2 linked regions of the Homo sapiens genome follow. The protein of the gene in region 2 binds, or shares a complex with, the protein of the main gene of each other region. Each region holds a gene or a part of one and is shown on either strand. Other genes may lie near its edges.

Region 1 (7,476 bases), on a different chromosome or scaffold from region 2:
CTTCTATAATGTGGACAACATGTGCTGGTTACTCTTTGGTTTCTAGCTTCAGTCAAAGTTCAAGGTCTTCTGCTATTTGTGGCTCAGATTCTTTCTTATGGGAGGCATGTCTGATAGATATACACCAATTTCATAAATAAATAAATAAACATAAAAGTATTTTATGTATGAGTGTATTGTGGGTGTACATATATGGCACTCTAGACAAGCCATGCTTTTCACTCACAACAATGCTTTAATAAATTACAGTTCTACTACAGTGGGAAGTAAAAGCCAACTGTTAACAGAAAAATCTAGCCAAAGAATAGCAAAGTGAGCTACAAAATTAATTCCAGAAGCCAAAGAACTAAATAAAGCTGGTTCACAAAACAAACAAAACCAACACATTTTCAATGAGCACTATTCGGTTTATCTATAAATGTTCATGTATTTAAAAAGTTGAGTGGTATGCCAACTTTCACTTATGACAACATTCTACATAAATACCTGATTCCCAAGAGAAATAATTCAGGTTTAAAGAGCTGTATACAAAAATAAGAGAAGCAAGAGCTACAATGAAATGAACAGAACTAAATTGCACGGGAGCCCTAAATGTGGGATGTGCTGAATACAGTGTACAGGAGACTCAAAATACACAAATTAAGCCTAAATATTCCCAATGTATTCAATATCTATGAAACAAGCAATAGAATTCCAATCAACACTTGCCACAAAAATTGCCATAAGCTGGTTGCTATTTTTTAAATGATGTAACAATGACAGATTTGTTGCCACATATTTTGTAACTTAGGAACACTGAGCTATTAAGTTTCTATTAGCGATGTTTTAACTGAGGATTTGGGCTAGAAGACTGAAATCTGTTTGTACAGCAGTGAAAACGAAGCCTCACTAAAGGCATTCAACTTCCAGCTAAAGGCTCCTTTCCTTGATGCGTATTTGTGACCATACATAGTGTTCACTAAATGCAGTAAACTAAACTAGCAACAGATTAGTTAAAAGCAGCTTAGATTTTCAACTTCCCATAATACAGGCAACATCTTTAGAAGCAATCACATTAAAATAAATGTGTCTTTCACAGTTACGGGATGAAATTGTAAGCTGGACAAGCACCCATGCCCTGGTTTTCTACTTTATTTGTAAACCATATGACTCTCACATGCTGAGAATGTTTTATGCTTTAACCTGCAGTAAAGGCTTTACATCATTTTAATGCCCAGTACTTAAAATGCAACAGAATCACCCCCAACAAATGCTGGGAATATATTTGGTTTACATGTAATGATTTTGATCCCACTAGTAGCCAGAAAAAGTTTAATGAATGCTTTTTCAAGTAAATAACTTTGCACTTCTATAGACAAAACAAAAAGAAATTTTGAGGTAAGGGTAGATGGAAGAGAAAACACTCGTGTTTTTCCAATTTAAAATATTAACAAACATGTTGGTTTTTTACTTCTAAAATAATTATTAAACATTTTTTAAAAAACTCCATGACTATTATAATATGCTTCAGAAAAATAAAACAAAACACTCCGTTAAGTAGTTACGTAGGATTTTTCTCTGGTTTTTGCAAAGTAGTGTTTCAAGTTAAGATACAAGCTTAAAACAAATGATTCTGAAAATCCTGGTCTATCACAAACTAATGGCTTAGTTTTGAATCAACATATTGTATATTCTACATCTGAGATTTAGAAATCACATTTTTTTTTCTATTCAGGTCAATTGAAATATACATGCTACCTCACTCTTTCAGTCCCCCTTATCTGTGTGAATGACCAACAGCAAAAATTTTAAATCAATGGTTAGAGGACATATCATAAAATTACACACTCTATCAATGTGGTTTTCAGTTATCATAGAATCTAAAGGTCCCTTACTGATGATAGGTGGCAGATTCAAGAATTGATAAGTTTGGGGAATATATTCAATTCTCAACAGTCGAAATAGAAATTATGCCAATTTCTTTACTTTAAAAATCCGTTACACTAAAAAAATTGTCACATAAGGATTATTGAAGAACTTAATAAGGAAGTACAAAATATGACCTTAAATTCTCCTAGTGTGTTATTAAATATTAAAAACTGTGAGAAATAAGAGATGTTGCAATCCTTTCCTTTTTAACTCTAATTGAAATTTGAAAAAAAATTTAGAATTCAAATTTCCCAACTTTGACTTAGAAACATAATTCAGCTAGATCAAGCAACTTAATTGCACAATTTTAAAATAAGTTTAATGCAAAGCACTGCAATCCTGATGTGATAATTACCTGCAGCATAAATGCAAAATAATAAATGCATTTAACGATGCATTTTATGGTAAAACCACAAAAAGCACAACCATATTAGCACAAACTAAATAAAAAGACACAGGCGGTATTATGTCCAACAGAAAGAGAAATGTTGTACGAAGCCAAGAAAGAAAGGAAGGACTTAAGGAAGGAAGGAAGGAGGGAGGATAGGAAGGAAGGAAGAGGGAAGCCAGAGGTTTCTGTACCTGCAGGATACCAGAGAAATGAGCTAGTCACATCACTCTACCTTATATGATACATGGGTGATTTTTTTTAAGCTTCAGCGTAAATAAAAACAGTAATCACTTTATACCATTCAACTTTACATAGTGTTATCTTTAATGCCAACTGCATTCTTCCCTTTACTCACCCAATGCTTCTTCACTGTTCCATTCCACCAGCTTTCAGGCAAATGCAAGACAGAACAGGGTGGAGTAGAAGAAAAATACAAGCAGCGCCTTTCGGCGCACCCCCTCTCCCGCAAATAATTTCCAACAGTTCCTCCTGCTACGAAAATAAGTCGCCCTATCTCCAGATACATAACAGACATTCCGTCTCCTTAGTAGACACACACAGACGCGTACACAATCCAGCACTCCCGACCCCCACCCCAGGCCCCCCGAATCTTCAGCAATTATTCATCTAATTCACACGAAGACAAGATACCTCTACCTACTGTTTCGGGGTGAAGGTGGGTGGAGGACGCCTTTCAAAGTAGCCCCAATAGTGTAACCAAAACACGGTTCCGGAATAAAATATTAAGAAACACTTTTCCTTTCCCACCTATCTACCGACTTGAGGATGCAAAAAATCCATCTCCACATCACACCATCTCTACAGTTCTCGTGGCTGGAGTTTGGGGTGGAGATTCGTCCAGGGGAGGGGGCGGAGGCGAGTGGCAGAGTGTGAGCGGGCGACGGGACACAAGCGAGTTGTTGAGCCCGGCCGCCTCGCACCACGTCGCCAGCCCAAACGCCCAGCACCAGGACCTCACGCCCGCCCCTCAGCCCAGGCCCAGAGCGAGCGAGGACTCGCGCTGTCTAACTTCCCATCTACAGACACCGCTCCAAGACGAGCAGAGCACACAAGTACACGTCACACAGTTTAAACACACTTACACACCCCAAACAAACCAACACACCTGCAAATCACCTCACAGTTTCCAGAACTCCACACCGGAGACCCCACCTCCAGGATTCAAACCTTCCGCTCATCGTAGAGGAAACCAGAAGAGTTGGGGGGCAGTCGACGCCTTTCCAGGACCGGACCCCACGAACTGCCCCACCCCACAGCCCGCGTCTGGGTCACCCACTCGGAAGCCCCCTGCTTCCTCCCTCCTCTCAATCCGGCCGCTTACGAGACCCATCCCCAGCGTCCGCTCACTTCCTCCCCAAAACCCCTCCAAAAAAATTGTTTTAAGTGAAGAGAAAGAAGTGAGGAAAGAGACTTGAGGTAGTCCGGCTTCAAAACCGCTCGACTCACCTCAGAATCCTCGCTGAGTTCTCTCCGCCCGGCACAGCCCCCTCCCCAACGTCCCAGTACGAAGGGCTGAGATAGGGAGGAGGGAAGGCGGGAGGGGGAGGGGTGTCTTCCGCGTGGGGCGCCCGTCGGGAGGGGACTGGGGAGGGGTTGAGGCCGGCGCAGGAAGAGGAGAAGGGGGAGGGGAGGCCCCTATCTCCCAGTCTCCCCCTGAAAAACCTCCCTTGTCTCAATCACATCAGACTGACTGTCTTTGTCTGGCTGACAACCGCCATATTGATATCAACAGCCCCTCTCCCACCTGCTGCCGCCGGGCGTCCCTGGGAGTTGTAGTTCCTGCCTCCCCTGAGAAAAATTGCGGAGCCCGGCGCCTAGAGGGCCAAGGGAACTACAACTTCCGGCAAGCCCCGTGCCCATCCGCCTTCCCTTTGGGAGGAGGGAAAGGGGAGTCGGAGCCGTCGGGACTACACATCCCAGAACACCATGGGCCCCAGGCCCGTAAGGAAGACATGATATCATGCTGGGGTGGAGAGGGAGGATGCATTGGCGGCTGGGATGAATTTGAGCTGACGGAAGGAGGCGTTCGGAGAGGAAAGGGAGGAAAAGGAAAGGCGACCACAGTTCCCATGATGCCTGGAGGGGAGACTACATTTCCCATTATTCCCCTGGAAGGGACGTGAGGATGAAAGACTGCAAGTCCCGCGATGCTCTCGGCTGGCAGGTGGCGGAGATTGCACCGGAAGACGCTTCCTGGGTTTGAGGAGTTCAGTGACTGCTATTGAACCACCAAAAGTCCATTATGAAACTGGTGAGTCTTCGCTCCTAGGTCAGAGGGCAAAGGTGATGCTATAACCTTTTGGACCTCTTTTTTTCCTACGTTGGGCAGGGAATCGTCGCACGGGAGGGGTAGCAATTATTGAGCTGGAAAGTGGAGTGGGCTAAGGAAAGCTGCTTTTTGTTGTTGAGAAGGTTTGAATTCCCTCTCCCCCACCCCATCCCTCCCAGGAGGTCTTTTTTCACTCGTTAGTGGGTCTTTTTGTTCAGACAAGAGGTTGACTGTCACAGTCCTTCGCCCATGAACTCTGTGGGCTCTGTTAACCAGGTTTGGACGTCCTGGTTCCCACGTGAGGGTTATAATAGGCTGTTAACAATCCGTTTCCATTCGATTGGCGCTTGAGTATCCTGTCTCCCTACTGTTGTTGAGACTGGCTAGATTTAAGCAGACAGTAAAAAACATCCAGCAGAACGTAATCACTTATTAAATATCCTGTTATATAGACTCCTCACTGCCCTTGGAATTCAGGACGAGGTCAGAGTGTGGAGAAGTTGAGTCTTAAACCCTGCATGGGATTTAGATGGGCAGAGAAGTGTTATATGGTATTCCATTCTAAGACTGTAGGGACTTCATGAGCCAAGGCTGAATGAAGCGTGCTCGGTATACCTGAAGTCTTAACATCACACAGCTCAAGCACCTGGTTCATGGAGGCTCCTCAGACCTTTGATTTGAGCCATTTGACTCATTGTGCACACAAGTCTAACTAGTTTATTCCAACTCGATTCAATTAGTTAATAACATAGTGTAGAAAGGCAGGTGTGAAACACTGTTTCTCAACCTTTTAAAACCCATATTTGTGCAGCCAAGTTATTGTCAAGCTTTACTTGAGGCAGGAGAATCGCTTGAACCCGGGAGGCAGAGGTTGCAGTAAGCCAAGATCGCGCCACTGCACTCCAGCCTTGCAACAGCGCGAGACTCTGTCTCAAAAAAAAAAAAAGTTTATTTTTTACCATTTATATAATTATCTGAACATGCTTTGCCAAACCACACAACACACCTACCCTCATCTTGATAATCATTGTGCTACAGGCATATATTCTGCAAAGCCAGCTGTTTTCTGCGAAGTCAGAGAAAGTATTAAAAGTGGATTCAATTCCGAAATTGTCCCCGTATAAATCTGTTTATATAAGGGGAAGGATGCGGGTCACTAAACCTTGAGAATAGCAACTTACCCCTGGGTCAGTGTGTTACACATTTAATAATGCAGAATTAAAAGTCATAGCCGTTGCCCTACAGAAGCATGCAACCTAAGAAGAAGATAGAAAAGTAAACCAAAGTTATTATTTATTTATTTAGAGACAGGGTCTGGCTTTGTGGGGCCCAGACTGAAGTGCAGTGGCGCGTTCTCAGCTCGCTGCTACCTCCACCTTTCGGACTCAAGCGATCCTCTCGCCGCGTCAGTCTCCCCATATAGCTGGGAATACAGGCGCGCACCACTGCACCCTGCTTATTTTTTTTGTAGAAATGGGGTTTAACCATGTTGCCCAGGCTGGTCTCAAACTCCTGGGTTCAAGGTATCTGCCCACCTCAACCTTCCAAAGTGCTGGAATTACAGGCATGAGCCACCATGCCTGGTCCGAAATTATAATTCACTGTGTTCATGGTGAAATAGAGGCGTGTTCAGGGTTTTGGGAATTCAGAGAACAGAGGATTGGGGAGGTCAGGGGACAGCTTCCTGGAAACGTGACTCTTGAACTGATAAGGATAAGTAAGCCAGGGCCTTCCATGAAAGAGGTCAGCTTATAGGAGCATAAGAGCTTGGTACCTTATTGGCTAAAGCATGGACCCTGTGTTCTCAATAAAGAGCAAATTATATTTAATGTGTTCAGTTTAAGAAGGCAGGGAAGTGTGAAATAGTTTTTCCCATAACAACTCATTAGTGAGGGTATCAAAAAGCCAGGGTTTACTTTACATATATTTTAGTTTGCTCATAAAATCCTCCTGCTTAATTTATTTAGAAATATGAAACCGGGGATTGTAAAAAAGTGGAAAATTATTTTTTCCATTAAGAACCAAAGATGTCTCAGAGGAAAAGGAAGTATTCTATTGATACTCATACTCCCTCTTTACTTTGCAACTATGTATTACATACTAAAATTTATTTGGTAGTTGATAGATAAATGTAATTGAGAATTCCCATCAACATACCAAAAGCATTGTTGCTCAGTAAGTTAGATGGGTGTGTCATGCCTCCCAAATGGTTGGAATAAGTCCTCCCATGGCCTAAAAGTTTTAATTTTGTGTACTGCTTCAGAAATATGTAATAGGCTGTGTTTTAAATTTATAATTATGAAACAAAAACACATTTTGTTTAGCATTTTCTCATTTTTGAGATTCACTTTCCAGAGTACCCTTCCCACACACAATCTATGACCACCTCTTATTGATTCTGCTTCCTAAATGCAGCTTTCTTAAATAGGTTCTATTTCTCTCCAGTCCAACTAGAATACTGTCTTTGTAATCGGAATTCAACAAGACCCCTTATCTGGTCTCTCTGCATTCAGTCTTAACCCTCTCAAATTCATTCTTTCCTCTGCATCCGGAAGTTGTTTTAATTGCAGAGTTCCATGAAACCCTCTCAGTATCTTCCTTTGCCCTTAGGATAACCTCCTACACTTAACTTGGTTGAATATGTTCCATTGCCTGCCTCACTCTTTTTTGCCTGGCTAATTTCTTCATATATTTCAGATCTCTGTCTAAATAACACTTCTTCAGGGCCTCGTTGAATTAAGTACCCCTGTTATATATTTGATGGCATACTTCCTATTTGTAGCACTTGTAATTATTGGCGTGTGTCTGTCCTCCCCCATGTAGATTCTGTGTAAATAATTGGTAAATAATTTCTGAAGGTTTATCAAGGTCTATGGATACCCTTGAG
Region 2 (7,023 bases):
TAACATGTTCATGCACTGGAAGACAATATTATAAAGTTACCAATTTCTTACAAACTAATCTTTATATTCAGTGTAATCCCAATCAAACTGTTAAATTTGACAAGCTGATTCTGAAATTTATATAGAATTGTCAAGGACTAACAAAGTATGAGTATTCCAAATATATAAAAAATAACTATGAATCAACAGAAAAATAGGCAAGAGACCTGAATAGCCATGTCATAAGAGAAAATCCAAATGGTCAATAAACATATTAAAAAGGTGTTCAATTTCTTTAATAATCAAGGAGCTACACATAAAAAGTACAACTTCTAAACTGGTAAAAAACGTAAGTCTGATAATTCTATGTGTTGGTACGGATGTGATTAATGGACGCCCTCATACACAGCAGGAATGTAAACTGGTTCATTGACTTTGGAAAACAGTTTGACATCATCTGTTAAAACTGAAGATACGCATTTTCTGTAAGTCAGAAATTTCATTCCCAGGTATACACTCTAAAGAAATTTGCGTGTGTGAACTGGGAGACAAACAGAAGAATGTTCTGCACTGTTTGCAATAGGCCCATGCGGAAATAACCCATCGAGAGCAAATAAACTGTGATACATTCATACAATGGGATAGTACATTACAATTAAAGGGGAAAGACATGGATGAGTCTCACCAGTGTAATGCTGAGCAAAAGAAACAAAAACAAAGCTAAACAGTATTCTTTAGGAAGACATGTGAAGAAGGTAAAAGAAGAGCAAAGAAATTATTATCATGAAAGTCAAAATGGTGGTTTGCTTTTGGAAGGTGTAAAGTTTCAACCAGGAAGGACCACGCAAGGGAAGGAGGCAGGGTTCTGTGATCCTGTAATGTTCTATTTCTAGCTGGATGGTAGTTGCATGGGTTTTCACTTAAAAGTATTTAAAATATTTATACATTTTACATACTTTTCTCACTTAAAGGTATTTAAACTATTTATATATTTTACATACTTTTCTGTATGTATGATCTATCTCACAATAAGAAAAAAATGAGAAGGAATAATACTGTGCTTCTCACTCATCTTTCTAAATAACTGGGTTTGGTTCTTTGTACAAATTCTCTAAAATGACTAAAGTGGCTGGGCACATTCTCTTCTTGGAAAGATAGCATTATTTAGTAGAAAAAGCAATAAGACTAGGGATCAGAGGACAGAAGCTCTCTTAATTAAATTCTTAATTTACTTCTCTTAAGATGCTCTCTTAAGCATATTAAGTCTCTCTGAACCCTAACTGCTTATCTATTAAATGCAGATTTAACAACTGCCCTTATCTTGGGATATCTGTGACTATCAAATCATAATATAGTAAATTAAAAGATGTTTAGAAAACAACAAACAAACAAACAGAAAAACAAACACAGCAGTTTAGTTTTAATAATCTGAAATTCAAAGATTTTTAATCCACTGGAGTCATGATGAAGCTGAGAGATAAAAACTACCGTTCCATTTTAAATAGCATTATTTGCAAAATGGTGTTATTTCTATCGGTAATGGGTAAACAAACAGGGTTCTATTTTGAGAAAAAAATAAACATAAAATATTAATTTAACCTAACAGATGGTAAGAGATGGTGTCAAAGATGCACATTAAAAGTCTAAAGAGTGAGATCTGCTCTTCTGTTTACAAAAGAAGACTTAGGAATGTCTTCAGCTCTCCAGGAAGAGAGAAATATATTTCCCAAGTTGCCCATCCAGCCCTACCTCCATTACAGATAACATTCAGCCCCTAAATTTTTCTCCCCAAATTGACTGAAAAATACAAGAATAAAAAAACCAAACCAATGTAATTGGGCTTCTCAATTAGCCTTAGTGCCACTATGGGAGAATGAACAAGCAACTGAGTGGCAAGTTTCACTGACTAAAACAAACATTGAAGTATAGAAGTTTTATGTATTTATTGTGCCACTTATAAAATAACTGCCACAAACATCAACAATGCTTTTAGAAGTTTTTCATATTCAACCACTTAGAAGATGACAAAGACAATATAAAAATGCAAAACATTTTACTATATTATAATGTTATATTATTTTTTCTATATAAAATGTTACAAGTTCTACATACCTGAATATTCTCCCTACTCCAAGTATGTGGTGTTTTATTAGCAAGTAATTTCAGATCTTGAATAGCAAGTCTCTTTACTGCCTTCCTGGGATCATTCTTCAAATACTGCAACAGAAGCTGAATCTATAAAGGAAATAAGTCACTCCATAAACAATACTGTAACTGAAATGATCATTAGAAATGCAGTGTAGTTTAGTGAAACTTATAAAGGGACAGGACTCACTTCAAATCAGAGCCCTGTCACTCACTAGCTATGTGCCCACATTTGGGCCTCTTTCTCCATGTTTGTAAAATACTACCATTTAACTTTAAAGTTTTAGCACAGGCCCTGGCATTTTACAGATACTCAATCCTTTCTTTTTTTTTTTTTATACGGCCAACTTCACACCCAGCCATGTACTCCATAACATCTCATTTTCCTCAAGGGCTCCCAACAATCAGTACTGTGAACAGAGAGAATAAAAAAGCAAGCAAAAGCAAATTAATCTGACCTTTATTAGAGAAAAGAACCTTAATGTCCTCAAGACTTGTGGGCCACTTTCTTATTTCTAATCATATATTTAATATGTAAGTTTACCAAAGATAGGCAGTTTAAAGAAAATTGAAATTACCTGCTTAGGTGTATCAACCAAAGATGACGCTGCAAGCAGAGTGAAAGTGTGCAAAGACACAATCACCATTTTGGTGGACGGATAGGATGTGACCAGCTGTTGTAAAAGCTGACGAGCACTGGAAGCCAAGATTGCATCATGGTGCATGTGCTGTAGAATGGGTATCAATTTTAGCTTCAAGTCTACTGGTGTCGCTAAACCTAGACACAAAAATAATTCTCAAGGTATTTGTGATCACCATCCTTAATAATATTCCAGATTTAAAAGCTGTGACTCATTTAGCAAAATTGCACTTGAAAAACACAGTATACTAATATATTTATAACATTAAAGATTATACTAGAACCAATTGATAAATTCAATATTTTTTCCTAAGTATTTATCTTGACATTAACTTTTCAATGATTATAAAACTACATGCTGATAATAAAAACTGCCTTTAAAAAGCACAGTAGAAAGCAAAGTCATATTTGCTGCCTATTTCCTCTCATTGTCATAGTAAAAAAATTATACATACACATATACATATATATACACAAACACACACACTTGATGGCTACAGTCTGATTATACTTATGATTTTAATTATTTCCTTCAACAACTAAATCATAATCAGGATGTGAATAAACTGTGTGTAGAATGGTTTCGAAGTCCTCTGAACTTTGTGTAGTAAATGCCTTTCTTTATTGCATACACGACTGGATCCATGAAGACTAACCCTAATCCACGTTTTCCTGTCAACAGTGGAGCGAAACCAACAAATCTTTTCTCTATGGCATGGCTTTGTGGTCATGGTGAACACAAATTTCTCAGTCGTAATGTACCACATACATGCCACAAGCTAATTATACTCTGCGTATTGCTGGCTTTTCCATGGTGAAATAATTGTGGGTATGAACGTAAGACAGCATTTCAACGTCCAACAGTTGCCTACGTCAATAAACTCCCTTGCTAGATGGCCTCTACTTGGGTTTGCCAGAGGGAAAAGAATGAGATCAGAGTATTCCCTGCTTTCCTCTCTGCAGGGTCACATCATGCTCATGTTATTACTTTGTTCCTTAAGGTTCTGAATGCACTTGACACTGCTGACCATTCTATCTTTGAAACTCACTCCTAATGGCTTTGGCTCTTCCACTTTTACTGTTTTCTGACCTCTTTCTCTGGCTGTTCCTTCTTAATCTCCTTTGTAGTCTCCTTGTCTGTCTACGCTTTAATTTCTGATATTCCCATAGGTTGGTAATAAATTCTCTTCTCATTCTATGTGTTTTCCCTGAGTGAGCTGATATAATCCCATGGTTTCCATTATCGGCTAAATGTGAAAGGCTGCCACCCATCCGTCCTCCTGCCCCGACGTCAGACGCATGTATCTCATTATCTTCTGGTCATCTGCACTAGGAGGTCTCAGAAGCATTTTGTATTAATAAGGCTCAAAGAGAACTGATCTTAACCTTGAAACTGCCCCTCCAAAAATATTCCTGTCTCAGTAAATCACATCATTATAGCTTCTTAGACCCTGGAGTCTTTCTTATTAGTGAAAGGATTCTATCACATCCCATTTCCAAATGTATTAGCAAATCTTATTGGTTCTAACTTCAAAATAAAACCCAAACTGACTCTTTCTACCTCCGTTGTTACCATGCCGATCCATTTCCACTACCATCTCTTGACTAAATTATTGCAAGTCTCCTAAGTATTCTCCCTGCTTAGGCCTTTCCCCATGGCAGACTCCACTCTTATATCCCCCTCTTTCCTCCACTGCAAGTTTATTCTCAACCCAGTACTCAGAGGGATCTTTGTGTTTACAGGCATCTTTACTAAAGATTTAGGGAGGCTCGGAGATTTTACTTGGCAGAAACAAAAGTGGCTTAAAACCAAATGTCAGGATTCTGTTCCTAAAACTCCTCTTTCATTTCCATATCTTAGGTTCCAATTTTCCTCCACCCACACTCCTATGTTTTCCTCTGCCTCTCTCTCCTGCTAATTCCTGTTCTTTCAGATTTTTTTAAGATAAAATTTAAGGAACAATAAGGTAATGAATCTTAAGTGTACAGATTAATGTATTTCTACATATGTATATTCTCATATAACTGTCATCAGATACACAGAATACTCCAGCATCCTAGAAGGCTCACCTGTATAGCTTTCATCAACTCCCTTGCTATCTACCCTTTGTTTGGGTTTAACCAATGGAGAGCCCAGCAGGAGTTGCAGAGAAGAATGAGGTCAGAGTATTTATTCCCTGGTTCTCTCACTGCAGGGTCACATCATGCTCCTGGAGGTTAGCTTCTCAAAGTGGTCCTCCTGACATGATACCAATTTTCTAGTAACCTCTCTTTAACCTGTACCCTTAGAGGTATGGTAAAAGCTATTACGGGTTCAAGAACTACATTATCCCCTATAGTACACCCTGACCATGCCTTTGTGAATGGTTCCTTTATTACACCTTCCTTGAGTTATCTTAATTCAAATGTGCCACCTGTTTCCTGCTGAGATCTTGTCTGATGCAGCAGGCACTGATAAAATCTGCTCAATGAATAAGTGATGCTTCCTTCTAATGTCATAAGGATACTTTTCTGCAGGAAAGCCCTTTTGCTAATGGTGGAAGAAAAAACACAAAGGAATAAAGGGGAACACAACAAAGCTCATTCACTGTATCTTGGTCTTTAAGTGATTTTTATTATTTATGCAAGTGAGCAAGTTCTCTTTAATTTTAATTTGAAGGACAATTTAAATGCGTGCAAAATATAACTACACTAAGCAATTCATGCCTTAGAAGGGCACAGTAGCATAAGTGGTTAAAAGCATCGGCCTCAAAGCCAAACTGTAAGTTATCAGCTTTTTTACTGTGAACCAATCATTCAGCTTTAGTGTGGCTCTATTTCCTTTCCTGTAAAACGAACATAATGGTATTACCTATCCAAGGCTGCCACATTGCACAATTCAAAGGAATGCTCTTTATAAGAATATAAACAAAGTGGTGTTCTCTAGAGTCAGGCAATGCTGTAGCCCAAGAGCTCCCTTTTATGACTGCTAGGATAAATAGGGGTATGACACGTGTATTAACCCTATGGGAGCTCTTGGGCTCCCATAATGACTGTTGTAAGGATAAATAGGGTTAATACACATGACTTATGGTATAAGAGACTGGAAAACCAGGGCTTTGTAGTCTATGGTAAGGAATCTGGATTTGATTCTAAATGCAACTGGAAGACACTGGAGGGACATTAGCAGAGAGTTCCAGAGCTCCTAATAATATTAGCCTCTCTCACACAGAGCAGTCTTCCCTACACTAATCATGCCCCCCATAAGTATGCTTTGGTGAATGATGGACCACATGACAGACGGTGGTCCCATACGATTATAATGGAGCTGAAAAATTCCTAGTAACTTCATAGACCCTGTAGTCATTGTAACACCACAGTGCAATATATTACCTTTTCTACCTCAGATATACAAATCATTTTGTTACAATTGCCTATGGGTATTCAGCACAGTTACATGTTGTATAGGCTTAGAGCCTAGGAACAATAGGCTATACCATACAGCCTAAGTGTACAGTTGGCTATACCATTTAGGTTTATTTAAGTACACTCTATGAAGTTCAAACAACAAAACTGCCTAAGGACCCATTTCTCACACAGGATCCCCATTGTTAAGCAATGCAAGACTATATCTGCATGGCTCACTCCTTTCTCTCCTTCATGTCTCACTCAAGTATCACCTCATCAGAGACTGTCTCTGATCAATATATACAAAAAAGTCCCTTCTCTGATCAATATATATAAAATAGATAAGTCCCTTCTCTCAACCCACCAACGACTTACTTTTGAGACTCTCTATCCTTCTTCTCTCACTTTTTCACCATAGCACCAGAAATGTCATAGGCACATTTGTCTATCCCCACACACCCCACCCCTGACTAGAGTGTAGGTTAGATGGGGGTAAGGACTTTGTTTTGCTCATTCCTGTATCCTCAGCATTTAGAACAGTTTGGGCAAATAGAAGATACTTAATAAATATTATTTGAATGTATGGTGACTAGCAAATAATAAGTACTTAATTAGTGTTAGCAACTATTATAAATCTAATTAAGTCACTTCATAATACTAAATGAAGAATACATACCTTGAATCATTTCACTGATTTTGTTACAGATTCCTACAGCAAAATCCCTTTGGAAAAAGAGAACAGAGAACAGAAAAAACTTACATTTGCTTATATTTTCTAAGGACTTAAAAGAAATAAAACACAATTAGCGCAGAAGAAATACAATATTCCAAACTGCAACTAATATTCCAAGGTCAGGTGCTCGGGTTAGGGG

What was found. The genes of interacting proteins can lie anywhere in the genome.
Region 1: INTS7 (region 2) and INTS9 share a complex: the UniProt entries of both Homo sapiens proteins name them as parts of the integrator complex.

The regions. Positions count from the first base shown.
Region 1 is NC_000008.11:28,886,969-28,894,444, reverse strand, and holds the start of INTS9 (integrator complex subunit 9), read left to right. Parts: upstream 1-4,475; 5' UTR 4,476-4,562; coding exon 4,563-4,571; exon of another isoform or gene 4,572-4,603; intron 4,604-7,476. UniProt on the Homo sapiens protein: Component of the integrator complex, a multiprotein complex that terminates RNA polymerase II (Pol II) transcription in the promoter-proximal region of genes.
Region 2 is NC_000001.11:212,004,548-212,011,570, forward strand, and holds part of INTS7 (integrator complex subunit 7), read right to left. Parts: intron 6,875-7,023; coding exon 6,828-6,874; intron 2,903-6,827; coding exon 2,703-2,902; intron 2,215-2,702; coding exon 2,092-2,214; intron 1-2,091. UniProt on the Homo sapiens protein: Component of the integrator complex, a multiprotein complex that terminates RNA polymerase II (Pol II) transcription in the promoter-proximal region of genes.